Homo sapiens: one gene and its partners. The protein of the gene in region 4 interacts with the protein of the main gene of each other region in a pairwise test. Each region holds a gene or a part of one and is shown on either strand. Other genes may lie near its edges.

Evidence for each region.
Region 1: the proteins of POLL (region 4) and FSD2 interact in binary tests that used the Homo sapiens proteins (3 or more experiments, as listed by UniProt).
Region 2: the proteins of POLL (region 4) and SSX2IP interact in binary tests that used the Homo sapiens proteins (3 or more experiments, as listed by UniProt).
Region 3: the proteins of POLL (region 4) and TRIM23 interact in binary tests that used the Homo sapiens proteins (3 or more experiments, as listed by UniProt).
Region 5: the proteins of POLL (region 4) and MAL2 interact in binary tests that used the Homo sapiens proteins (3 or more experiments, as listed by UniProt).
Region 6: the proteins of POLL (region 4) and TNFRSF10D interact in binary tests that used the Homo sapiens proteins (3 or more experiments, as listed by UniProt).
Region 7: the proteins of POLL (region 4) and FAM9B interact in binary tests that used the Homo sapiens proteins (3 or more experiments, as listed by UniProt).

Annotation. Positions count from the first base shown.
Region 1 is NC_000015.10:82,803,270-82,807,555, forward strand, and holds the start of FSD2 (fibronectin type III and SPRY domain-containing protein 2), read right to left. Parts: upstream 2,801-4,286; 5' UTR 2,697-2,800; intron 1-2,696.
Region 2 is NC_000001.11:84,680,462-84,683,961, forward strand, and holds part of SSX2IP (afadin- and alpha-actinin-binding protein), read right to left. Parts: intron 2,007-3,500; exon of another isoform or gene 1,737-2,006; intron 1,524-1,736; exon of another isoform or gene 1,367-1,523; intron 1-1,366. UniProt on the Homo sapiens protein: Belongs to an adhesion system, which plays a role in the organization of homotypic, interneuronal and heterotypic cell-cell adherens junctions (AJs).
Region 3 is NC_000005.10:65,614,334-65,617,833, forward strand, and holds part of TRIM23 (E3 ubiquitin-protein ligase TRIM23), read right to left. Parts: intron 1-3,500.
Region 4 is NC_000010.11:101,581,820-101,585,257, forward strand, and holds part of POLL (DNA polymerase lambda), read right to left. Parts: intron 3,101-3,438; coding exon 2,783-3,100; coding exon of another isoform or gene 2,617-2,782; exon of another isoform or gene 2,531-2,616; intron 1,863-2,530; coding exon 1,689-1,862; intron 1,073-1,688; coding exon 944-1,072; intron 1-943.
Region 5 is NC_000008.11:119,211,363-119,214,862, forward strand, and holds part of MAL2 (protein MAL2), read left to right. Parts: intron 1-3,260; exon of another isoform or gene 3,261-3,500. UniProt on the Homo sapiens protein: Member of the machinery of polarized transport. Required for the indirect transcytotic route at the step of the egress of the transcytosing cargo from perinuclear endosomes in order for it to travel to the apical surface via a raft-dependent pathway.
Region 6 is NC_000008.11:23,147,028-23,150,527, forward strand, and holds part of TNFRSF10D (tumor necrosis factor receptor superfamily member 10D precursor), read right to left. Parts: intron 1,525-3,500; coding exon 1,411-1,524; intron 46-1,410; coding exon 1-45. UniProt on the Homo sapiens protein: Receptor for the cytotoxic ligand TRAIL. Contains a truncated death domain and hence is not capable of inducing apoptosis but protects against TRAIL-mediated apoptosis. Reports are contradictory with regards to its ability to induce the NF-kappa-B pathway.
Region 7 is NC_000023.11:9,024,128-9,027,627, forward strand, and holds the end of FAM9B (protein FAM9B), read right to left. Parts: intron 1,457-3,500; coding exon 1,388-1,456; 3' UTR 1,357-1,387; intron 1,251-1,356; 3' UTR 105-1,250; downstream 1-104. UniProt on the Homo sapiens protein: May play a role in meiosis.

The DNA of each region.
Region 1 (4,286 bases), on a different chromosome or scaffold from region 4:
CCTCAGGGGTGTCCCTGCCCAGGATAGCAGCATAGCTTATACAGCATATGTTGCTTTGTTCAGGCAGAAGTGGTACATCTGCACATCGTGCATTCTGAGGGCTCCATTACTGGCAAGTCCCAACTCTCCTGGGCACCAGGGATCCCCCACCCCATGCCATAGCTCTATACTCCCCAAGCAGCCCCACCTTCCCTAGCGGTAACCCTCTGTTCCTTCTGGCCGCGCTCAGGGTCTTCCATGTGAGACTCACCCTAGGCCCTGGCTCAGACTGTCCTGCCTGCTGAGAGCTCCCACTCTTCCCTATCTCACCACTGCTTCTTAAACCCCATACTCATCCAACATGGCCCTCCATGAAGTCCACTGCATTGCTACTATCCATGAATGAGAGCATGACATCCACCCCCTCCAGCACCAAACCAGAGACCAGAAGCTCATCCTTGACACCCCCAATCTAATTAATAACTAATTCATGCTGATTCTGACTCTACCTCTTGAATCTCTAAGTAATATCCCTTTTCCTGTCCCCTCTCCCTGCTCCCCAAGATCACTGCCCTCTGGATTCAGAGAGTCCTGTGTTTGCATTGTTTCTGCCACATCCTGGAAGTATGACTTCAGGAAAATCATCTCTCTAGGCCTAACTTTAATGGACTATAAAACAGCTCTATTAACAGTGTCTACCTCATAAGGTTGGCATTTAGATGAAATAACATAATGTACTTTATGCATAGTACATAGCTTAAAGTAAGTCCTCAGTAAGTGTTAGCTGCTGTTATTGTTGTTGTTCTTACTATCATTATCATGATTCCTACCTTAGTATCTCCCACCTGGGCTAGAAGCCTTCTACCTAGTCACTCATGGAGAGTGACCACAGCAGTGTGGAATCATCCATGGCTACTGTGGGAATATTTGTCCCTTGAAAACAGCCGATGATGAAAGAAGGCACCAAGCAGAACAGCCTCATAACCACGCACAGACATCAGCTATGAGATCATTCCTCTCCCAGGGGGCCCAGGCAGAGATATGGTATTCTAGGGATGGAGGTCCCTTGGAGAGCATCTAATTCAATTTCCTGATTTTATTCAGCAGGTCATGGATGTTTAAAAAAAATTCCTGATTTTAGGATGGCAAAACTGAGATCTTGTGAGGATAAAGGACTTGCTTATAGCCAATTTTCTTTTACAAAAATGTATCTGGGCTACTCTGTATTTAGCCCTGTGCTTGAATCCAAGCTTTTCACCTGACACACAACCAGTCAGGTGAAGAGCTTGGATTCAAACCCAGGTTTCCATTAAATCACACCATCTACAGACAGAGGAGCAGTTCACTAAAATAATGCTTACATTCCCATGTGCTACCCAAAGGGAAATAGCCAGGATTCTGTATGACCAATAAATCATCATGAGAAATTATTTCAACCAGAAGCTGGAATGTGAAACACCAAGTTGAACTGTCAGAAGACTGGAAAACACTTAGTGCAAATACAGATAAGAACACATGCTTTCAAGCTGGCACTTGCCCTTCGAACACACAACACAAAGTGGTCTCAACACAAACTGGCTCAGTGTCAAAGTAGGAATTTTGCAACACACCCTACAGTTAACAGTCACTTTTCCCCTCAACACCTAGACTCTTTCTTAACAAAATCAGGATTTGGGGAGAAAGGAAAGTTGACAATAAACTGTCATTTTATAAATGGTGAAACTAAAGCTTAGAGAAGTAAAGCAATTAGTCATAGTCCATTATGAATGTCTTTGCTGGATACCCTTTCCTCTATGCCAAGGGAAGCAGTTAAAAAAAATAAAAAAGATGTTTGTCTAAGGCTTATATGGGAGGTGTATCCCTGTGCATTACTTAGAAAAGTCCCCCAATAATTTTTTTTTTTTTTTTTTTTTAGAGACAGGTTCTTGCTATGTTGCCCAGACTGGTCTTGAACTCCTGGGCTCATGCAATCTGCCACCTCACTTGGCTTGTTTATTAACCTTTTATGGATCATGGGCATATCTACTGAATCTACTGAAACCTGTGAATTCTCTTCCCAGAAGTGATTCCATAAGGGCAGGAACATAACTTTGCCTATAATTTTAGCTCTTCCATGCAGCCCTTGGCAATTCCTGAGCCACAGCAGTGAAAGAAAGCTTGCCTTAAAGTGTTACAGTGATATGAAATGATTCAAATCAGCTTTGCAGACACTGCCCGAACCTGAAAACTTTCTATAGGAGGAGGCTGTATGCATAACAAGTGAAAAATAATTACGATGCTGTTTTTTAGTATTTGAATCAATGCATGAAGTTATTATTTTTCAGCATGTACACACAGATTAAATAAAATGTATTTACAACACAATAGTATAGCCAGATGATATTCAACATCTATATTTCCAAACTGTTCTACCAAATGGTTCTAACTAATGGGTCCCAGCACTACAGATATCCTAAAGACACATTATAAGAATCACCAGCCCCTGTCTGCCTTCATCAGAGCCTCTCACATCCTGTCCCAACATCATGTTCAGTTAATGCGAATTCTTGCTTTAAGAAGGCACAGAAAACATTTACACTATTTATTGTAATTTAAACATCTGCAATTTACCATGATATCTCTTCCCACCTACAGGAAAGATATTGCATTAATATTGCAGCATTGAGTTTCTAATAATACAATTTGCATTGGAAGAATATGACTACCCCAAAACTTGCCTGCTAAGCGTCCATAAATGCTTCCTTTAACTCAGAGGACCTGGAGTTCTGCTAGAAAATTGAATCTGTGTTCAGCAGGCTTTCCTTCCTAGTGACCTCTGCATGCCCCACAGGCTACCCCTGCCTATTTTACACCAGAGTTCTGCAAGTGGGGCACCAAAGCTGGATGGTAACATGAGCTGGCTGCAGCCACAAATAGCAACAGGCCTGCCATGAGTGAAGGTCCAAATATAGACCTGCTGTGGCTGAGTTGCCACTTCTTACTACTCAAGTGTCACCAGGAGAGGTCACATGCCGTGCTCTGAGTTACTTTCTGTGCTGTGAGGGGTTTTAGACTTGTGGCTCTACCATGGGTCTCAGATGGCTGGTCATGTGGAGAGGGCTGGGGACTGTCACGGCAAGACCAGGAAGAAGATTCCTTTTTTTTTTTTTTAAGTGAATGAGTTTCTAAAATTATATGCAAAATTATGTCTGTGTCCTTATAGAATCACTTCCGGGAAGAGAACTCACAGGTTTCAATAGATTCTCAGAGGTGCTCATGAACCATACAAGGTTAAAAAACATTTTGGGGGCACTTTTCTAATCAAAGCACAGGACACACTTCCCATATAAGCCTTAAGCAAACATTATTATTTTTTTTTTTTACTTGCCATGGTATGGCATAGAAATGGGACTATCCAGCCAATACATTCCTTATGGACTATGATTGACTATTTCTCTAAGCTTTAGTTTAATAATTTATAAAATGACAATTTAGTGTTAATGTTCTTTTCTTCCAAAATTCTGACTCTGTTAAGAAGTTGAAAGAGTCTAGGTGTTGAGGAAAAAAGTGAGTGTTAACTGTGGGTGTGTTGCAAAATTCCTACTTTGATGCTGAGCCCACAGACCAGCATAACAGTATAATCTCTCTCTCCTCTCTCTCTCTCACATGCACGCACGCACACACACACACACACACACACAGTGTAATAGTCAGAGTTGTCCAGAGAAACAGAACCAATAGAATGTATACATATATGGAAACAGATTTATCATAAGGAATTGACTCATGTAATTATGAAGACCAAAAAGTCCCAAGATCTGCAGTTAGTAAGCGGAAGATCCAGGAGAGCCAATGGTGTGGTTCTAGTCCAAAGGCCAGCAGGCTCAAGACCCTGGAGAGCCAATGTTTCCATTTGAGTTGGAAGGCAGGAAAAAAACCCATATTCCCACTTGAAGGCAGTTAGGCAGGAAGAATTCCCTCTTATTCAAGCTTTTGTTCTATTCAGACCTTCAATCGATTGGATGAGGCCCACTCACATGAGGGAGGGCAACCAGTTTTACTCAGTCTACTAACTCAAAGGTTAATCTCATCCAGAAACACCATCACACACACACACCCAGAATAATGTCTGACTAAACACCTGGTGACCCAATCAAGTTGACACATTAAAATTAACCATCATACATATATATACATATGCTATAGACAGTTTATATTCCCCTAAAATTCCCATGTTGAAACCAAATCCCCAATGTGATGGTATTTGGAAATGTGGCCTTTGGGAGGTGATTAGGTCATGAAGGCAAGCCCTCATGAATAAAATTAGT
Region 2 (3,500 bases), on a different chromosome or scaffold from region 4:
TTTAATAATTTTATTAAATAAACTTATGCATGTAGAGGGCTTAAAAAAAGGTCATGGGTACATGGTAAGTGCTCAATAAATGCTAGCTATTATTAGCTATTTTACTCTTGGAAAGACTTCCATGATATTTTGTTAAGTAATGTAAAAAAGTTACAAAACCATATCTAATATGAGCTTATTTAGTCCTCAGGAAAAAAAAACAAATATCAGTAGATATGTACAGGCATAAATTCTGCTCTATAAACACAAAAGTTGGTATAAGGACAGAAAAAATTGCAAGGAAAAACCAACTTAAAAAATAGGGAAAAGGCAAGGGCAGGACTTTCATTCCTTTCTTTATGTACTTTCATGCACAAAAATATAACTTTTATTTTATTGTGTCTTCCAAATTTTCTATAAATGAAAGTGTTTTTCATATTAAGAAAAAAAATTTATGTTTTTAAAAGGCAATTATGGTGATGATAAGCACAGGAAATGGGGATAAACAGCACCATTCTGAACCACCAAAACCAATGGTAGAATGGCATGAGTGATAAAAAATGCATAAAATAAAACAGCAAGCAGTCTTGTTGGGCAAAAACTGGTTAGAAAATTATACAAATGTCCTACAGTTTTTTAAGATAGTCAATTATGTAAGGGAAATAGCACTTTACCAGAGATCAGTAGTTTGTTGTTTTAAAGGGCAATTCCAACAGTATACAAATATTTGAAATGTGTAAATCTTTCCACTAAACAATCATACTTCTAGGCATATAAGAGAGCAAGCATAATATATATTGAGGACATTGTTGAATTGCAGTATTATTTGAAATGGCAAAAAACTAGAGACAATCTTAATATCCATCATGGACAAACTGTTAAAAACCAACACATATGGTACAGCCAGGCTATTCTGGGATTATTAAAGATTAAAGCACATATGCATGTATAGCACAAAAAAAGAAGTTACAGGTTAATTAGAACAGTATGATCACCATTTTTTGTTAACTCAAACTACCTATATATATTTAGGGGAAAGTTCTGGAAAAGTTACAAAATGTCACAAATGACACTTCTTGGGATGGAATAATTTGGGTACAGGGAGGGGTAGAAGAGCAGGGCTTTCACCTCTTCCATAGCATATCTTTATATAGCTTGAATGTTATAGGAGCATGTATTATTCTGTAAAATTTTTAGCAGCAGAGTATTCAAGCACAATTAAATGAGATAATGTGTGAAAGTACTCTTAGCTCAATCCCAAAAAGTAGCAGCCCTGTCCTTGAGTGGAAATCTCGACTTAGACAAATCCCACCAATCAGGTACACTTCTAGCACCTGTTCCACATATGTACGCATACCCATGAGCAAGGGTAATGCAGTCTTCATACCTGAGGGAATGTCTGTGGGAATCTGGCCCATCAGGAAGACAGGGAACAGAAATACAGAGGCCAGACTTTTCCCCAACTATCATCAAGGGCAAAGCCATGGAGTACTGGCAGACCTGGCAAAAGTGGACTCTCCCCCTGGCTTAATGAACAATCCAACCTTGGTAGGAGGAAAGAGGGAAATTGACTTTATTAACACCCTCTTCAAAAACAAATGCTCTTCATCTTTCAACCTTCAATGAATGAAATTACTAAGAAGGTGCATTTCCGCTTCAAGAGAGCAGCTCACAAAGTTAAATACGGTAGGGACTTAATCTATGTACACCATCTGATATTCCATTATATACTGACTTTTTATTGCTAATGTTTTCACCTGTTTTGGACTTGGCTGCCAATTAAACTGTTAGTTTTCCAGGGCGCTGTCACTTCAGGGAAGCTGCACAGGGTACTGAGAGAGCGCTGGACTGAGTAGCATCAGAGGCCATGGTTCTCAGCAACACTTCTGTTATGTACTGAGAAACCTTGAACCGGTCATAATTTCTTTGGGTTTCAATTATGAAGTCAAACTAGATGACCTTTAAAGAATTTCAAGTTCTATTATCTTTTGATTTTTACATTTCTCATAGGACCCAATATGGAACTGAGTACAGCTATTTATATCAAAATTATTTTGTCTTCACTTTTTTTTTTTTTTTTGAGACGGAGTCTTGCTCTGTTGCCCAGGCTGGAGTGCAGTGGGGTGTGATCTCAGCTCACTGCAACCTCTGCTTCCTGGGTTCAAGCAATTCTCCTGCCTTGACCTCCCGAGTAGCTGGGACTACAGGCGCATGCCACCGCACCTGCTAATTTTTGTATTTTTAGTAGAGATGGGGTTTCACCATGTTGGCCAGACTGGTCTCGAATTCCTGACCTCGTGATCCTCCCACCTTGGCCTCCAAAATGCTGGGATTACAGGTGTGAGCCATCACGCACTGCCTTTTCTTCACATTTTTATAACAATGTGCACACATTGTCTTTACAACCCAATGTTTAGCAAATGAGATTCTACCTAATTTTAATAACAATAAAATAATTTATTAAGCATGTAGCAATTACTTGGAACAATTCTAAGCATTTTATGTGTACGAACTTATTCAATCTTACAATGATCCAAATACTTTCCCCCATTACAGATAAGGAAACTGAAGCCTGGAGTTTTCTTGACCTAGGATACAGAGCTGGAACATGACAAAGCCAAAATTCAAACCCTGGTAGTCTAGCACATTTAACATTACACCCTACTATCTTTAGTACAGGAGAGGGGGAAGGATACAATATTCAAGCTGCTTTTTTTTTTTTTAAGTTTTGGGATACATGTGCAGAACGTGCAGGTTTGCTGCACCTATCAATCCGTCATCTAGGTTTTAAGCCCCGCATGCATTAGTTATTTGTCCTAATGCTCTTCCTCCCCTCAAGCTGCTTTTTCAAACCGAACAAGTATTCTCTTCTTTACCACCTCACCTGAAACTAAATTATAATCAAATAATTATGCCAATTGAATAACTGGAATGGGAACTACACAAAAGCAGACAAAATATTAAATTCTGGATGTAGCAATTCAAAAAAATTTTGAAAAACCTAGCAAATATATTGCCAGGCTTTCCCTGCACTGCCATCCCTTCTCTCTGTGCTTCTAGAACACTTAACATGAACTGTATTACAGCACAGATCTAACAGGAATAAAATTTCTCTCCCACCACAACTGAGTTCTCATTTGGCAGGCTTGTCAGCATATTCTTTGTACCCCACTTCGGTAACAGGCATCATCACTCACTCCAAGGTTGGAGCCCAGTCAAGATTGCTGAATGAATGTCCAAGTTCAAGGATGTATTAGTGTAAGGTTTGCTGCTGTTTTAGTATGATAGACAAGTCAACACTTTGGCCATGCTGCAATTTGGAAGGGCTTTCAACGTAATCTTGATTGGTAACAGCTCAGAGAAGGAGAAAGGTGATTCAGGGTATGAATCAAGAGCATGGCAATTTACAAACAGTGTATCAGTTTCAAATTCTTCCAATGTACACACAGGAATAGCAGCAATCATATTCTTAGAAGATTATTAAGAAACAAGAAAAAAAAGAGGCACTTTTAGAAGTCTAT
Region 3 (3,500 bases), on a different chromosome or scaffold from region 4:
AAATTCAAATTTTCCCCATTTTTAATACCAAAATAATTGCTTTGTTAATGCTCTCTTAAAAAACAGAAGAATCCTTCAGCCTTCCAAGTAGAAACACACTTTAAAATTTATTATTTTTTGGCCAGGTGCTTTGGCCCACGCCTGTAATCCCAGCAGTTTGGGAGGCTGAGGCGGACAGATCACTTAAGGCCAGGAGTTCAAGACCAGCCCAGTCAACATGGTGAAATCCCGTCTCTACTAAAAATACAAAAATTAGCCAGGTGTGGCGTCAGGCGCCCATAATCCCAGCCACTCAGGAGGCTGAGGGACGAGAATTGCTTGAACCCGGGAGGTGGAGGTTGCAGTGAGCCAAGATCACACCACTGCACTCCAATCTGGATGACAGAGCAAGACTCTATCTCAAAAAAAAAAAAAAAAAATCTAAATACACATAAAAAAAATTATGGTGGTAAAGGCTGCACAACAATATGAATGTACTTAATGTCCCTAAACTTAGAAATGGTTAAAACGGCAAATTTTATGTTATACATATATTTTGCCACAGTTTAAAAAAATTATTTAAATCTCTTTTACTTTTTTTTTGAGACAGAGTCTTGCTATGTTGCCCAGGCTGGTGTGCAGTAGCGTGATCTCTGCTCATTGCAATCTCCACCTTCCGGGTTCAAGTGATCCTCGTGCCCCAGCCTCCCAAGTGGCTGGGACTACAGGTGTGTGCCACTATGCCCAGCTGATTTTTTTGTATATTTTGGTAGAGATGGGGTTTCGCCATGCTGGTCAGGCCGGTCTCAAAACTCCTGGCCTAAAGTGATCTGACTGCCTCAGCCTCCCAAAGTGCTGGGATTACAGGTGTGAGCCACCGTGCCCAGCCTATTTCTCTATCATTTAATTTTACAAGTCCTATTTTGTCATTGACTTTTACTATACATGCTAAAACAAGCATTTTCAAATACTTTTTGCAGCAACCTACCTTAAGAAATACATATAACATTGTAACCCAGGACAACATACACACTCTTCCTGAACCTATGAATAAAAGTCAGATCCTTTAGCAGAAGGAATATTTGTTATGGTAAACTCCTATGCAACAAATAACATCTGATATAGCTGCCACCTAATACATATTCATTAAATGAATAAATATATAAAAGGTTGATGGAGTCATTGCCTGCAGGGCCCCCCTTCCTCCTGGCTCTTAAAAAAAAAAAAGCCATTCTGTGTTGTGGTTCTCCCAAAAAAACTGGACTGAACATATCTATCCTCAGCCTTGCCCCTAGAAGGCTTTCTCCTTAATTTTTAACACATATTCTACAACAAGCTGAGTTCTATCTATTTACATAAAGGTTAAGAAGTACACTAAGTGATCATTTAAAAATATAGTCTTGACAATTTTCTAAATATCCAGTCACTATATAATGAATATATACAAATAAACCTCTAGCATTATTACTAGGTAGTGCCTAATATTTATATCACTTAATTCTGTGTCAAAACAACTCTATAATCTCAATGGCTTAACACAACAAAGATTTATTTTTTGCATCATGCAACATCTCAGGGATTAGGGAAGACAAGAGAGACTCTGTTCCCCACTGACCACAAACAGGGACACAGCCTACCGAGCCTCCAACCATCTGGACCACCTCACTGCAGCAAGGAGAAGAATTTACTTTGAAAATCATAAACCTTCTCTTATTAACTTCTACCTGGATGCTAACACTTCACTTCTGCTTACATTTCACTGATCAATGAACATCACACAGTGATGCGTAAGAGGGCAAGGAAGTGTAATTTCACCATATGAGCAGAAGAAAATCAGGAATATTGCTGAATGGTATTAATAACTACTCATATTCTTCTTGGACTAGAGAGAAATTCTGATTCAGGATTCAGAGAAGTCAGAGAGGAGGATGGATGTATTCAGTCTAGTTCCCTGTCATAAATTTCTAGTTTTGTTAAACATTGAGGATAGTAACTCTTCACATTGTGGTATTAATGTAGAGAAGGTAAAGTGCTCTTCAAAAAGGTAGAAGAGCCAGGTGTGGTGGCTCATGCCTGTAATCCCAGCACTTTGGGAGGCTGAGGTGGATCACTTGAGGTCAGGAGTTCGAGACCAGCCAGGCCAACATGGTGAAACCCCATCTCTACTAAAAATACACAAATTAGTCAGGCGTGGTGGCAGGTGCCTGTAATCCCAGCTACTCAGGAGGCTGAGGCAGGAGAATCGCTTGAACCCCAGAGGTGAAGGCTGCAGTGAGCTGAGATCGCGCCACAGCACTCCAGCCTGGGTGACGGAGTAACACTCTGCTTTAAAAAAAAAAAAAAAAAAAAAAGTAGAAGAAAGGTTCTATTCTCTATTTGAAAAACATTACTATTTCTTTAAGCATAGTTTTTTTGTTTGTTTGTCTGAGACCAAGTTTTGCTCTTGTTGCCCAGGCTGGAGGGCAATGGCGTGATCTAGGCTCACTGCAACCTCCATCTCCCAGGCTCAAGCGATTCTCCTGCCTCAGCCTCCCAAGTAGCTGGGATTACAGGCATCCACCACCATGCCTAGCTAATTTTTACATTTTTAGAAGAAAAGGGGTCTCACCATTTTGGCCAGGCTGGCCTTGAACTCCTGACTTCAGGTGATCCACCCATCTTAGCCTTGCAAAGTTCTGGATTACAGGTATGAGCCACCTCACCTGGCCTAAGTATAGTTTTATATAAAGAAATAGTATGATATATGCATATTTCACATAATAAAAGACCAAATAAAAGTACAGAGACTTTCCCAATCCCTATTATTTCTTGGCTACTGGTAAGTTAATGCTATCTATAATGTTATTACTGTCTATTAGTTGTCAGGCAAATAGACTATTTATATACATCAAAGATCACCAAAACCTTAAAAATCCTTTTCTTTCTCCAGAAAATATTTTAAAACCATGTTTCTTAGCATTTCAAAGTCTTCCAGCCTAAAATTATAGGTACTCTTGCTTCCTTTTTTGGTGGATAAATTATTTTGAATGTGTTCCACTTGAAAAATAGTATGAATATATTAAAACTGTCTTAGATAGTGCAACTGACCTGGAAAAAAAATGGCAACCTTAAACTCTTTTGGAGAAAACTCCCTTATCAAAAAGAGTAAACTTACAGAACTTACGTTTGTAAAATAACTGTTCAAATGTTAGTAAATGCTATTATTTCCAAATCTGGTATCTGAAAATAACTTAGTTTGAAATACGTAAAGAAAAGTTTTAAAAGTATACAGAAAACTGCAAAAAAAAGCCACAAACCCTTCAAACTCATTTTAACAGAAAATAAAGAGTAATTATCACAAGCTACAAACACTTCTGTCCTTGATATTAGTAAATAAAAACATGGTGAGACTCAAATGACTTATCTGTATTTTCATTATTGGCTTATTTATTTGTAAAGAAAACATTGTTCTATTGGGTTTATGGCTTCAGGCAAATGATTCACTCTGTGATACACATTCTTATTTATTTGAATCAGGGTAG
Region 4 (3,438 bases):
TTTTCAGACAGAGTCTTGCTCTGTTGCCCAGGCTAGAGTGCAGTGGCACAATCTTGGCTCGCTGCAACCTCCGCCTCCCAGGTTCAAGCAAATCTCCCACCTCAGCCTCCCAAGAAACTGGGATTATAGGCATGAGCCACGGCACCCGCCTAACTTTTTTGTATTTTTAGTAGAGACGGGGTTTCGCCATGTTTGCCAGGCTGGAAATTTTTGTATGTTTTATAGAGACAGGGTTTCACCACGTTGGCCAGGCTGGTCTCGAGCTCCTGAGCTCAGATGATCTGTCCACCCTGTTCTCCCAATGTGCTGGGATTAAAGGCATAAGCCACTGTGCCTGGTCTTAACTCCATCTTGATGGAGCTTTCTTCCAGCCCCAAACCAAATCCTACTGACACTGTGCTTTTACACCAACTCTACCCCAAATCCTGAGCCAGCCTTGCGTGGGCTTTAGAAGGTCCATACATCTGGAAAAAGACATAAACCTTTGCACATTTGTGCATTTTGGGGAGAAAACAGTCCACAGTTTTCATCAGGTTCTCAAAGAAGTTGGTGAAATAAAAAAAAAAGATAAAATAAAATATTAAAACCCTCTGCCCTGACCCACCCTAACCTCAGTACAGATATAATTCACCTGTAATCTAACCCTAACATTAACCCAATCCTAACACCAATCAGTCTAGAATTGAATCCAATCCTAATAGGCCTGACTACTGAGAACCAGAATCTAGAGGGCTGGTGTTACAGCTCTTTCCTCCCAAAGCTCCCCACCCCCACCTCTGGGCCTGGAGCTTCAGTCTTAACTTGCTCTGTGCTCAACCTCTGGTGATCCACAGTTTCCTCTGCCTGCTGTCCTCCCCAGCTGAGGAGTTGGGGGTTCTTGGCTTTGACCCAAGACCTTACAGCAGGACCTGGCTGTCCTCACTGCTCTGGGACACCTGCTTACTGTCTGCTCAATCTCTGTAGCCTCCTCCCTGGGCATACGTTCCAGGAAGTCACTGTAATGCTTCAGGCCGATGGCCTGCTGGGTTGTCAGGGAGGCCTGGCTGCGGATGTCTTCCAGACTTCGGAAGCCCTGGAAAAAAGCAGCCAGATGGGAAGCTGTAAGGATCCAGGACCAATGAAGAGGCATGAGTGAGCACACACACAAGGCTTCCATCGCCCCAGACTCTAGGGAAGGCTAGAGGCAGGACCAACCTAGGGGCAGTTGGGTCTGTACTCAGCAGGACTTGGGAAAGGCAGGGAGCATGGGAAACATGCCATCATCCAGCCCTGCCACTATCCTAAGATGCTCGTTCATGATTCCATCAGTCTGAGGATGGACCTTGTCATCTTCATCCTTACCAAGCTGCCCTGGTGATTGTGGGCAGAGCCAGGATTGGGAACCACTGCTCTAGACACGCAGTGTCAAGGCCTGGCCTCCTCAGGAAGGCCCTTGCTGGTCTGGGGAGACTGAGAAACATACTTCTTGTCCCTGTCTACTCCTTCTTAAGGATACCAAGCAACAAGGCTGTTCTGGGAGCTGAGGGGTCTATATGAGTCCTGGTCCGCTTGAAAAATGGTCTCCCTATACTGTGGGTGCATTCCCATCAGAGCACAGCATAGGGATCTGGGGCAGAGCACAGCACACATCTGGGGCAGGAACTCTGAGACACAGCAAAACTGAAGTAGGGGCTGAGCCAGGGTGTGACCTGTTGGTACCACATCTGGGCAGTCTTGGTCCCAGCTCCCCAGATGTTGGAGAAGAGCTCCAAGACAGGCACGCTCTCACTGATATGGTCCAGCTTCCGCAAATGCCCGCTCTCCAGGATCTCTATGATTTTCTCAGCCATCCGCTTCCCAATCCCAGGGATACTGCAGGCCTCCTAGAGGAGGAGGAGGCAGAGGCAAGAAAGAAGAGTGAGGAGATGGAAGAGGTAGAGCCAGTGGAAAGGAAGCTGACTCCTCTAGCAGATGCTGACATAAAAGCCAGCCTGGCTGCTTGGCAACTGTGTGGCTGTGTAAAGCTTGGGTGTAGTTGAAGATGAGAATTTTGGATAGAATGAGGGCTGGGTAATTTGTCTTTTGGTTCCCAGAAGGATGGAGACCAGCAGTAAGAAGTAGAAAATAATGATGATATTAGTCACCACCACCACCACCACCATCATCATCATTCCAACAGCAAGAGCTAACATTTACTGAGGGCTTACTCTATGTCAGGTCCTGTGCTACAGGGACCATTTCATTTAATAGTAGCCCCTTTTTACTAATGAGAAAACTGATGCTTTGAGAGTTTAAGTAACTTGTCTGGAGTCACACAGTTAGTGAATGACAGGAACCAGAGTTCAAACCCTGGTCTGTTAGGCTTCAGAGTCCAAACTTCTTTTAAACAACTTTTTAGGCGGGACACAAGGGCTCATGGCTGTAATCCCAGCACTTTGCAGGGCTGAGCCGAGGGTAGATTGCTTGAGCCCAGGAGTTCAAGACCAGCCTGGGTAACACGGCAAAACACCATCTCTGCTAAATAAATGAATAAATAAATAAATAAACAAAATTAAAAATAAAAAACTTTTAATTATGTTAAAAAATTCAAAAGTAGAGAGATCCATATAACCCCCAAGTATCGTACATCTCCCAGCTTCAACAACTATCAAGATTTTGCCAATCTGCTTTCATCAATTTTCCTTTTTTTTCTTTTGTGCAAGTCCTAGACCCCATAAAATCTTCACCACTGTACCTGAACCCCACTGGGGTTACTAACCACTGGCCAGTAAAGACCCCTCCTCCCACTCTAGCCCCTGGGTACCTGGTACGAGGTGACAGGCTTATGGAAGCTCTTGAGGGCATTGATGGCCTTGGCATAGCCCAGGGCCCTCCACTTGTCTCCCTGAACACTGTAGGCTTTGGCCAGAACTTCCAGCTTCTCTGTGATATGGAGGTTGTGATTGGTCGCCTTCTGGCTTGAGGGCTGTGCACAGACCCACTTATCCAGGACAGCAGGGGCTGGGCTAGGCTCACAATCTCCCTCAAGGGAGGTGGGGTAGTGGCCACTGATGAGGGCTTCCAGATCAGCTGCACTAACCTGGGTTTCTTCCCCATCACTGGCTTCATCATCAGAGATGGGCTTGGGATAGAGAAGAAAAGAAAACAATAAATTCTTGTTCTCCAAGAGAAGGGATCCTTAAAGGTGGGGGTCATCTTCTTTGTGCGGGGGGAGGGTCTTCTAGTCAGACCTAAGAATGAGGCGGGGCCTTCTGCATCAGACTTGGATCTCCTTGGGTGTGAGGCCACGTTCCCTTTGGCTCCACGCAGTGCCTAGCCCTAGGATCCCCAGTGGTATGTGTTAGATATGGCCTAGATAAATGCAGCAGTGATGAGTGTTGGGAAGAGCTAAATGGCTTCACAATAGAGCCCTCCTCTCTCAGGGGCCTGGGACTTTCTGAACAGCCACCAGGCCCACCC
Region 5 (3,500 bases), on a different chromosome or scaffold from region 4:
TTGTCTTTAAGAGTTCTTCATTTCTGTCCCATTGCCTTCTGAAACTTAACATGTGAAAATTGTACCTGACAAAGGAGGACTGGGCTATCAACAGTTGACTACGCTATTGACACCATGCTCTTGGAGTTTGGTTCTCACACTAACCATTTAACTTGGCTCAAAGTATTCATTCCCAATTCCCCTTAACGTATTCTATTCACAGCCTGTCAGATATAAGCCATTTGTTGGGAGATATTACAAAATATATAAATAGTGCCAGCCTACGAGCACCAGGAAAAGCATTATAGCACTGGCTTCTTAAGTGGAGAATATTACAATCTCACGTGCATAGTGATTTTTTTTTTTTTTTTTTTGAGATAGGGAGATAAGGTGTGTTCCACTCCTGGATACCTAATTGTCAGCTCTTTGGTTTTGGGCTTAGCAATACTTACCAATGTATGCTTGCCACAGAGTTTAATACTAAGTTAATATTGCAAAGCTAAGCCTTTTAGCTTAGAATGGAAGCCATCACCTTCAAAATTCGCACTTTCAAAATCTCACAGTTTTTTGAGTGAATATTTTATAAAAATCACTCATCGGGTATTTACTGAATACCTACTATGTGCAAGGCACTCCTCTGGGAACAAAGATGTTTAAACCCTTCCTCACCAGAAAGACCTATAACCTAGTTGAGAGTATAGTCACAAAAGTAACTACCATTCAGGGAAGAAAGAATTAAGTATGGGAAGTGAACTGCAGCTAAAACATTTTCCAGGTGGGTCTATCTACTTTAAAAAATAACATGGGATCATCTGCACTATTGGGCTGAACAAGATATTTAGGATCCCTGCTCTCAATGAGCTTATCTTGTAAAATGCACAAGAAAAATTGAATTTTTAATAGTATTAATCACGAAAAAGAATACAGATAATCATTGAATTCATTGTGTTTTATTTTGCAGTTTTAGTGTTTAAGAAACTACTTATATTCCCCAAGTTATTCATTCACATTTATCTTTGTGGGAGATACTCTAGGATTCTTATTCACATGCTTCTAACTGCAGTGTTTTGGATGCCATAGTAATTTTCATTTACTCAGCTTATAATTAAGAACATACTATGCATCAAGCCTTCTTTTATGCCCTGAAAATAGAGTAACTAACATGGCTCCTGCCCTTAAAAGAAATTACTGTTTGGTGGAATATAAAGTCAAGAAAGAATTACCATGCTGTGTATGAAGTGCTAATATAGGTTTATAAAAAGTATTGTGGAACAGCAGGATAGAGTACATCTGACTTCTGGAGAGGTCAGAACAGGCAGCTTTAATGAGGTGGGGACATTTGAGGTTAGCCTTCAATAATGAGCCATGGTTCATTAGAAAATGGGAAAGAGAATTCCAGGTAGAAACAAGGACACGTACAAACACAGAGACAAGAAGGACAATGGCAAGAACGTTCTGTCAGTTGTGAGATTTTGGTGGGCCGTGGCAGAAAAAGGAAAAACAGCAGGTAGGACTCAGGTTCTGGTTTGCTGAGAAATGCTAGGCCAAGGCATTGGATTTATTGTCTGATGGAAAGCTGTGAAGGACAGAGAGAAACTTGATCCAGCTTGTGTCTTAGAAACCTTTGAGTGATGAAGTTTGGTTGTAAAACAAAGGGACTGAAGGCAGGAAGAGCAGTTAGGGGGCTTATTGCAATAGTTTAGATAAGGGATGAAAAGAACCTGAAATAGAACCAATGAAAGAAGGATGGAGAAGGAGAGAGAGAGGTTTGAGGTTTGGGAAGTCAATTAAGTATGTAAAGTTTGACTTGCCCCAAAGTGATACCTAGACTAAACTTAAATATAAGATGTAACTCAGAGGAATTATGCCAGAAAAACAAATGTTAATGAAAGGATGATTGTGAGGGAGGGACTTTAGGGGAGGCAGGTTCAGTCATGCAGATAAATCTATGAAAGGGACTTCAGGTTATTTTCAACTGAGAGCTTTGACTTTGGACTAGTAACATGTATATGTTCTGATGTATAGAGTTTATTGCCTGGAAAATGTTGACTGTGAAGGGACATTGCTTATTTGCAGTGTGCAAGAGGGAGCTGTCCATGGACATAGTTGTCCCCTAAATGGGTTTTAAAACTGTAGGTATTTTTTTTCCTTTGCCTCTGGATTAAAAATCTTCATCCACATTAAAAGAATCTTTAGGCCGGGTGCAGTGGCTCATGCCTGTAATCCTAGCACTTTGGGAGGCTGAAGCAGGTGGATCACCTGAGGTCAGGAGTTCAAGACCAGCCTGACCAACATGGTGAAACCCCCATCTCTACTAAAAATACAAAATTAGCCAGGTGTGGTGGCACATGACTGTAATCCCAGCTACTTGGGAGGCCGTGGCAGGAGAATTGCTTGAACCTGGGAGGCAGAGTTGCAGTGAGCCAAGATCGCACCATCACCCTCCAGCCTGGGAAATAAGAGCGAAACTACATCCCCAAAATAATAAATGAATAAATAAATAACCTTTAAAGTTTCATAAGGGAAAATAAACCAATGCCCCTGCCAGAGATTATTATCAACAATCATTTGCTCCGACTGGCAGTCCTTTAAAAAAAAATACGAAGAACTGAAATATGGAAAACTTTAAACCAAGTAGCTGAAAAGATTCACCTTGAGCTCCAAAGGAAAAAGTCATAGAGAAGAGATTTGTTTTGTAGAGCCTGATAGAAATGTTGTACGTGGTGGTAGGAGCTGTGGACATGGTGTATTTGCAGTGATATGGCTGAATAGAAATGACCCTGTAATGACAAAGGACAGGAACCAGGTTGGCATACCCAGTATCATGCACATGCAGTACTTAACAAATGCTACTTGTTTGTTCTATAGTACAAACTGAGCAGTATGTGAAAATAGTCTGGAGACATTGGCTGGAGTGGAGAAGGGCAGCTTGGGAGTAGATGCCCTCTTAAATCTTGCCCAACATGTAAACTGCCATAATTCTTCTCCAGGTTTCTGCACTTTAACTTGAATTTCCTAAGTGTTCTATTTTATATAAGAGTACCATATCCTTTTATAGACAACATATATAACAATCTCAACTTCTGTATAATAGCTATGAGAAGGAGGAAGGTAAAAAGAAAGGAAAGAGGCAGTGATTTATACGGGTCTGGCCAATATCAGGGCATTGGCACGCAGGAACAGCTTTAAACTAAAAGTGATAACTAGTTACCTGCAAACATGAAAAGGGAATTTTCAAAATCGAGAGGAATTATTATAAAGAAGAATAAAAAGAACCAGAACATATTTCTCCTCTGTAATATGAGCTTTCCATTTTAGGGTCGGTGTCAGCTATTTAAGCAGCTGAATTGGAGGTTTAGGTCACATGGGGAGGAAGAAAGTATAACTCTCTATAGCACTCTCAGACATATTTTTAAAGCCTTCAAATGTAAAGCTAAAAAGTAGAACTTCTTTTGCAATGAGTATTAACGTATTTTGGTCATAAGCCTCTTATGTGTATGTCATTTCTCATTACATCCCAG
Region 6 (3,500 bases), on a different chromosome or scaffold from region 4:
ACACGGTGTCTCTGGTCGTGGTACAGGAACTTTTATTTGTTTGACCTGACAACAGAGCATAAGGTTTTGAGAATGTGTTTCCCTGACATGTCTGTCCACCCTTCCTCACCACCCCATCCCCTCCCACTCAGCTCAACTCAGTTCACCAAGGAGTTCTGAGGGCTGGTTTCTGCACCAGCACACTCGGGACTCATACAGGACACCCACCCTGTATGTAAGGACCAATACAAAAGGACCGTGATTCATTATTTATTATATCAGGTTAGGGGAAAAGCATTGTTTAGATGGCATGGTCAGTAGCAAGGGAGGCGCAAGGGCATCACCTGAGAGACTCTGCAAGGAGAGGGGCCCTTGGGGGACTTCCCAAAAGCCCCGGCCTTGCTGGGGAAGAGGAAGGGGCCTGAGAACCTGAAGGCTAAGTGAGGCCAAGCACCTTTCAGGAGCACAGAGCCCGGGAGGAGAGAGCCTGGCCACGGAGCAGACCTGTGCCACTGCTGGAACCCAGCCCTGTCCACTGGGCCAGGCCTCCTCTATGCTGTAATGATGCCCCCACCCGGCTGCAGGCAATAGTTTAGAAGATTTCCCAGCCTGGTGGCATGCATTACAGAAAAGATTTTGGCCAGGCGCAGTGGCTCACACCTGTAATCACAGCACTCTGGGAGGCTGAGGCAAGCGGATCACCTGAGGTCGGGAGTTCGAGACCAGCCTGGCCAACATGGAGAAACCCTGTCTCTACTAAAAACACAAAAAACTGGCTGGGCACGGTGGCTCATGCCTGTAAGCCCAGTACTTTGGGAGGCCGAGGTGGGTGGATCACGAGGTCAGGAGATCGAGACCATCCTGGCTAACACGGTGAAACCCCGTCTCTACTAAAAATACAAAAAAAAATTAGCCGGGTGTGGTGGCGGGCACCTGTAGTCATAGCTACTCAGGAGGCTGAGGCAGGAGAATGGCGTGAACTCAGGAGGCGGAGCTTGCAGTGAGCCGAGATCGCGCCACTGCACTCCAGCCTGGACAACAGAACGAGACTCCGTCTCCCAAAAAAAAAAAAAAAAAAAAAAAATTAGCTGGGTGTGGTGGTGCATGCCTGTGATCCCAGCTACTTAGGAGGCTGAGGTAGAAGAATCACTAAACCTGGGAGGCAGAGGTTGCAGTGAGCCAAGATCATGCCATTGCCCTCAAGCCTCAGCAACAAGAGTGAAACTGTCTTCAAAAAAATAAATAAATAAAAGAAAAGAAAAAAAAGATTTCTATTTTTTTTTTTTAATCAACTAGTCATAATCATGGAACAGGGCATGATGAAGACTACCAAGTTGGGCTAGAACTTGGTTCCCCGACTCACATCGGCTACAGCTCCCACCTCATCACTATGCACTCCACCTCTGGGCAAGGGGTCCACACATTCTGTACCTGATTTACAAACTGTACATAGCAGGCAAGAAGGCAAATTGTTGGAAGCAATGGTGTAATCCACACCCTCTGTGCACGGGTTACAGGCTCCAGTATATTCTGATCTATGAGATCCTGGGAAGGGAGAGAAAAGTTAATGAATGAGTCACCACAGAATTCCCAGAGGCTGACAATGGCTGGCAAATTTCTCTTTTGGCCCTCAGTGGAATCCAGACAGAGAAATCTGCTCTTCTTGGCTTGGTCTTGTCATCAATTCTGCATCTATTACACTATTACATACCTTTGACTGGCACTGCTGACAGAAATATAATACAAATCACATGCAAAATTCAAATTCTATGAAAGCCACATTAAAATAGTACAAAGAATGAGGTCAAATTAATTTTAACTATTTTTTAGCCTAAAAATATCCAAAACACTACATTTCAATATGTAATCAATATAAATATTTGAAATATTTTATCTTTTTTTGGCCAGGCACGGTGGCTCACGCCTGTAATCCCAGTACTTAGGGAGGCCAAGGCGGACGAATCACGAGGTCAGGAGATCGAGACCATCCTGGCTAACACAGTGAAACCCCATCTCTACTAAAAATACAAAAAATTAGCCGGGCGTGGTGGCAGGCACCTGTAATCCTAGCTACTCGGGAGGCTGAGGCAGGAGAATGGCGTGAACCCGGGAGGCAGAGCTTGCAGTGAGCTGAGACTGTGCCACTGAACTCCAGCCTGGGCGACAGAGCAAGACTCTGTCTCAAAAAAAAAAAAAAAAAAGAAAAGAAAAGAAAAGAAATATTTTATCTTTTTTAAAATTTTTTTTGGAGACAGAGTTTCACTCTTGTCACCCAGGCTGGAGGGCAATGGCGCGACCTTGGCTCACTGCAACCTCCACCTCCCAGGTTCAAGCGATTCTCCTGCCTCAGCCTCCTGAGTAGCTGGGATTACAGGCACCCACCACCACGCCCAGCTAATTTTTTGTATTCTTAGTTGACACGGTGTATCATCATATTGGCCAGGCTGGTCTCCAACTCCTGACCTCAGGTGATCCACCCTCCTCGGCTTCCCAAAGTGCTGGGATTACAGGCGTGAGCCACCATGCCACGCCCAGTCTACTTTTTTTTTTTTTTAACAATAAAATAAAATAACAAAATAAAATCCAACCTCATCTACATGTGATCTGCCCATGCTGGTCCACCTGACCTGTTTGCTGTCCACTCACTATGGTGGCCCCGTCTCTGCTCGGTATCCCCCAGCGCCTGCACCCTGGGACTGTCATTCCTAGGGAGGCTGCTCAGGAGCACCATTTCTGGCTCTCTGCACAACTATCCCTGTCCAGCTTTGGAGACTGGCCAAAATCACCATCCCCGAGAGGCCCCACCAACCTCGTCTCTGTCTCACTCATCACTTAATTTCTTCATGGTTCCTATCAGGAATTTCTGACTGTTATTTTGATCTGTGTGTCTTAATACTATCCCAGAGAAAAGGTTCCACGAGGGCAGGGCCTCTTATAATTATCCCATTAGCACGGTGCCTGACTGACAGAAATCATCCAACATGTCCCTATGGAATAAAGAACCAGAAAGTGCAGGAAACAGAAGTCTGGAAACACATAGAGATAAGGGCATGATAAAGGCATGATAAGCTAAGATATCAGTCTTAGCTTGTGCCTTCGGGCTAGCACTACAGACCCAGGATCCTGACCCACCTCCATAGATTCAGCTTCCAGATCTGTCCTAGTGCCAGGTCAGTCCCCATGAACTCAGGCTCCAGGCCCTTCCCTGTGGACCCAAGGATGAGACCCATCACAGCACCTGGCTGACATCTGCAGACCCAAGTACAAGGCCTATTCCAGTGCCAGTTCAGCCCTCATGGAGCCAGGCCTCAGGTCACCTCTCTGGATACTGGCTCTGACCACCCTTGAACCACACCACATGGCCTGCCCAGAATCTGTGAACAGGCTGACTGGTGAAGGGCGTTCCCTGACAAAGCCAGTCTGTAAATACTGGATTAAGTCCCTGCTTCTTCAAAGTGCACATTCCAACATATTGCCACAGGCTCCTGAGCAATCAGGGAACAGTGACGGCACCAAAGAAA
Region 7 (3,500 bases), on a different chromosome or scaffold from region 4:
GTACATCTTTTTAACATGTTACATGCAAAAAATCTTTTTACATGTTTGTTATATGTTGTTACATGTGAAAACTGCACATTAAAAAAAGGAAAGGCAGGCGAATTCATCATTCAAGTTTTTAGATGTCCATATAAACTTCCACATAATCCACGAATATTAAACTGGATAAACAAAGCACTCTACAAAATTTACCTTGCCACAGATGTGAAATAATTGTAAGCATACATAAATGTTAACAAAATGCTTTCATTCAATTCTAAGGGGAGGTATCATTGAATGATGGACCAAAACAAACTAAATAGCATTTTGATGTCTGTGGAAATGACATACCCACAAACCAGTGGCTCAGCACTGATATTAATATATCTTGCTCAGTTGCCTTAATCATTTACAGCAGTATAATTTTTTTTAAGAACACAGACAGTAAGGTGCTTTTAATAATTTTGATATGGCCATAGAGTATATCTATTTTTTGAAGTCCTACTTTCATTGGAATTGCCTCTTTATCCTAATGAGTAAATACAAAAGAACGCACAGATAAGATAGCTTTTGTCTTCTTCTTCTTGTTTTCTGAGAAAGAGTCTTGCTCTGTCGCCCAGGCTGGAGTGCAGTGGCACAATCTTGGCTTACTGCAACCTCCAACTCCCGGGTTCAAGAGATCCTCCTGCCTCAGCTTCCTGAGTAGCTGGAACTACACGTGCGTGCCACCACGCCCGGGTAATTTTGGTATTTTTAGCAGAGATGGGGTTTCACCATGTTGGCCAGGCTGGTCTCAAACTCCTGACCTCAAGTGATCCACTCCCCTCGGCCTCCCAAAGTGCTGGGATTACAGGCGTGAGCCACCACACCCAGCAGATATTGTCTTCTTTTATTAGAGAAAAATGTACTTTTCTATGCCTGTGCTTTCTACATTTTTGGAACTGATACAAATCCACAGAGGCCAAATCGAAATCTAAATTATCTTTAATGTTAAAATTTAATTGACCGTGTACATAACTATGCAATCCCTGCTTTCTCACAGAAGTGTCTAGGATTCATTCAACAGATCATAGAAACGAGGTCTGGCATTTAACAGACGAGTGACAGAGGAGCTATACCGATTTATACAACAATTATCAAAACACTGTCATGTAGTTTACTGTAGCTCAAGTTGTGCTTGTATCATATAACATAGGTTCAAGTTCTTTCTTCAGTCATCAGAATAACAGAGGTTGAAGAGACAACTGGGTAAGTGCCAACTTTTCCAAAAGCTGTTTCAAAAAAAAATTTAAGTAACTGTAATACACATTTCTGCAAATAAAATATTCCAGTGCTACATCAATCCTGAGTTTTTAATATTAAATATGCACTACTTACAGTTCTGACATGATTTTATTTAAAAACATGTCTAGTTATCAAGTTCACTGTCTTCATCGGAAAAAACTCTGTCACAAAGGTCTTCAAAGTCCTCAAGAGCCTAAAAGAAAAAGTCTAGTTCACTGACAAACCACCACTTTATATCTCGCATTTTAAACAGGGTTAATTAAATGTCAAAAGGAAACAGCTTTTAATATTCAAAGGATGCCAGTTATTCATTTCAAATAGAAAAAACTATAATCAATACATGGAGCTCCAAATACCCAATTAAATTTTTTAATGCCAGATTTCAGTGACATATTATTTTAGCAGGTCTAACAGTCATGTACTTTGCTTAAATAAAATGGGTTGAAGAACATCTTAAGGTCAAGATGGAGCGAAGACAGAAAAAGACGGGCAGGCTTATATCATGAAATATTATATTTTTTTTCAGCAGGTAGCGACCCATGTATTATCAGCAATAGCCTACATAACATGGTTTCCATTGAAGGGATAAAATGGTTGGTGATATGACCTCATCAAGTTAGAGAAAACGTAACTGTGTTTGAAATATATACTCTTTACTCAACAAATAGTTCAACAGTTCCTACTCCCTAAAATGTTGTAGGTTAATGCTGAGGAAGATGTAAAAAATGAATACACAATCTTCCGTATTTCTATGACATGAGCAAATGCACAAATAAAAAACAAGTAATACAAAACTTGTGTAACTGCTATGGAAGGGCAACTCACTCGGGCATGTAGCCAAAAATGGAGACTGATGTTGATTTAGTTGGCGAAAGGTTTCAATCAGTCAAAAAAAGATTTTAAAAGTATTGTGAGGGAAGAGCATGAGCAAAGCATGGGAGTAACGGTGAGTTCCTTCAGGGAAGGCGGTCAACCTGGAGAAGTGGGAGGAAAGACAGAAGGCGGCAAAACAAGCCTAAGAGGGGGTCATGTAAAGGGGAGAGTCTCTGAATATCTAAGAACTGAGACGGGGCATCACTGACAGGCTGGGAAGACGGAAGGGCTGGGAAGCATTTTAGGAAGGGAAGGGTTTTAGAAAGATAATATTGCCAATCAATGAAGGATGGCTCAGAAGAGAAGAGAGAACTCAGAAAAGAGTTTAATAGTACAGGTAAGGAAGAATGAGGTCTTGGACTAGGGTAGCCGCAGTGGGAATTTAAAGAAAGAAATTAAAGGACCATTGCAGAGGTAAAACTTGCCTCGTGATAACTACATGGGAAGGATAATGAACTCAGAAGAGTCCAAGATGATAGCAAAGTTCCTAACCTAAGTGGTAACATGAAACATTAATACTGACAGGAAAACTACTAGTCTCATGTTCATACCAATTAATAAATGGTATCTGGAGAACATTATAGCAACATGTTCTCTACTTGTAACTTCTATTTAAATAACTGTTTGTGTATAGATAATCCTCAAGTTGCTTGAAAATTTTATTTTCAAACTCTTTTCCCAGTTTATTTAACACATCTCAGTTAGTGTAGAGAAGTGACATATGAACATGTCTTTTCCAAGGTTATTAAAAAGAATACCAGATCTCCCCAAAAAAGATTCCACTGCTTCCTAAATTATCTACATCTACATGAAGAAGAGGTCATTGTCTGATGATAATTTGCTAATGTGCTGTACAACAGCAGATAATTCGCAATTCACAACGTGTTAATAATCTGCTGGCTTTCCCATTCTGTTATACATCTGAACCATCTCTTATGATTACAAATTGTCATGTAGAACCATTACTAATAATTTTGTAAGTGAATATGCCATAAAACACTCCTGTGTTTCAGCAAGAAATAAAAAAGACACACAGTAGTTACGCTTGCCTACTTCCTATTTAACTAAAACTCTTGAAACAACACAAGTAAAAAAGCCATCCAGAAAGGATTTATGGACCTCTTGCCTTCCACCATAGATTTGTCATTGATGTCCTGAAAACTGAAAATAAAATCTTCATTAAAACCCATTTATGCCTAGTGTTCCATTATTGGAACGCTAAGCTTGTGGGAATCATATATATCCTACTGCTCAAGGTCATGGCCAAGGTCTGATTTTTCACACACAAAAAAAATTTGCAACCTCTGGCATAAATAGGTTAATGTGTTAATAAAGTGTCAATTTTATACATAAGATGTGTATTT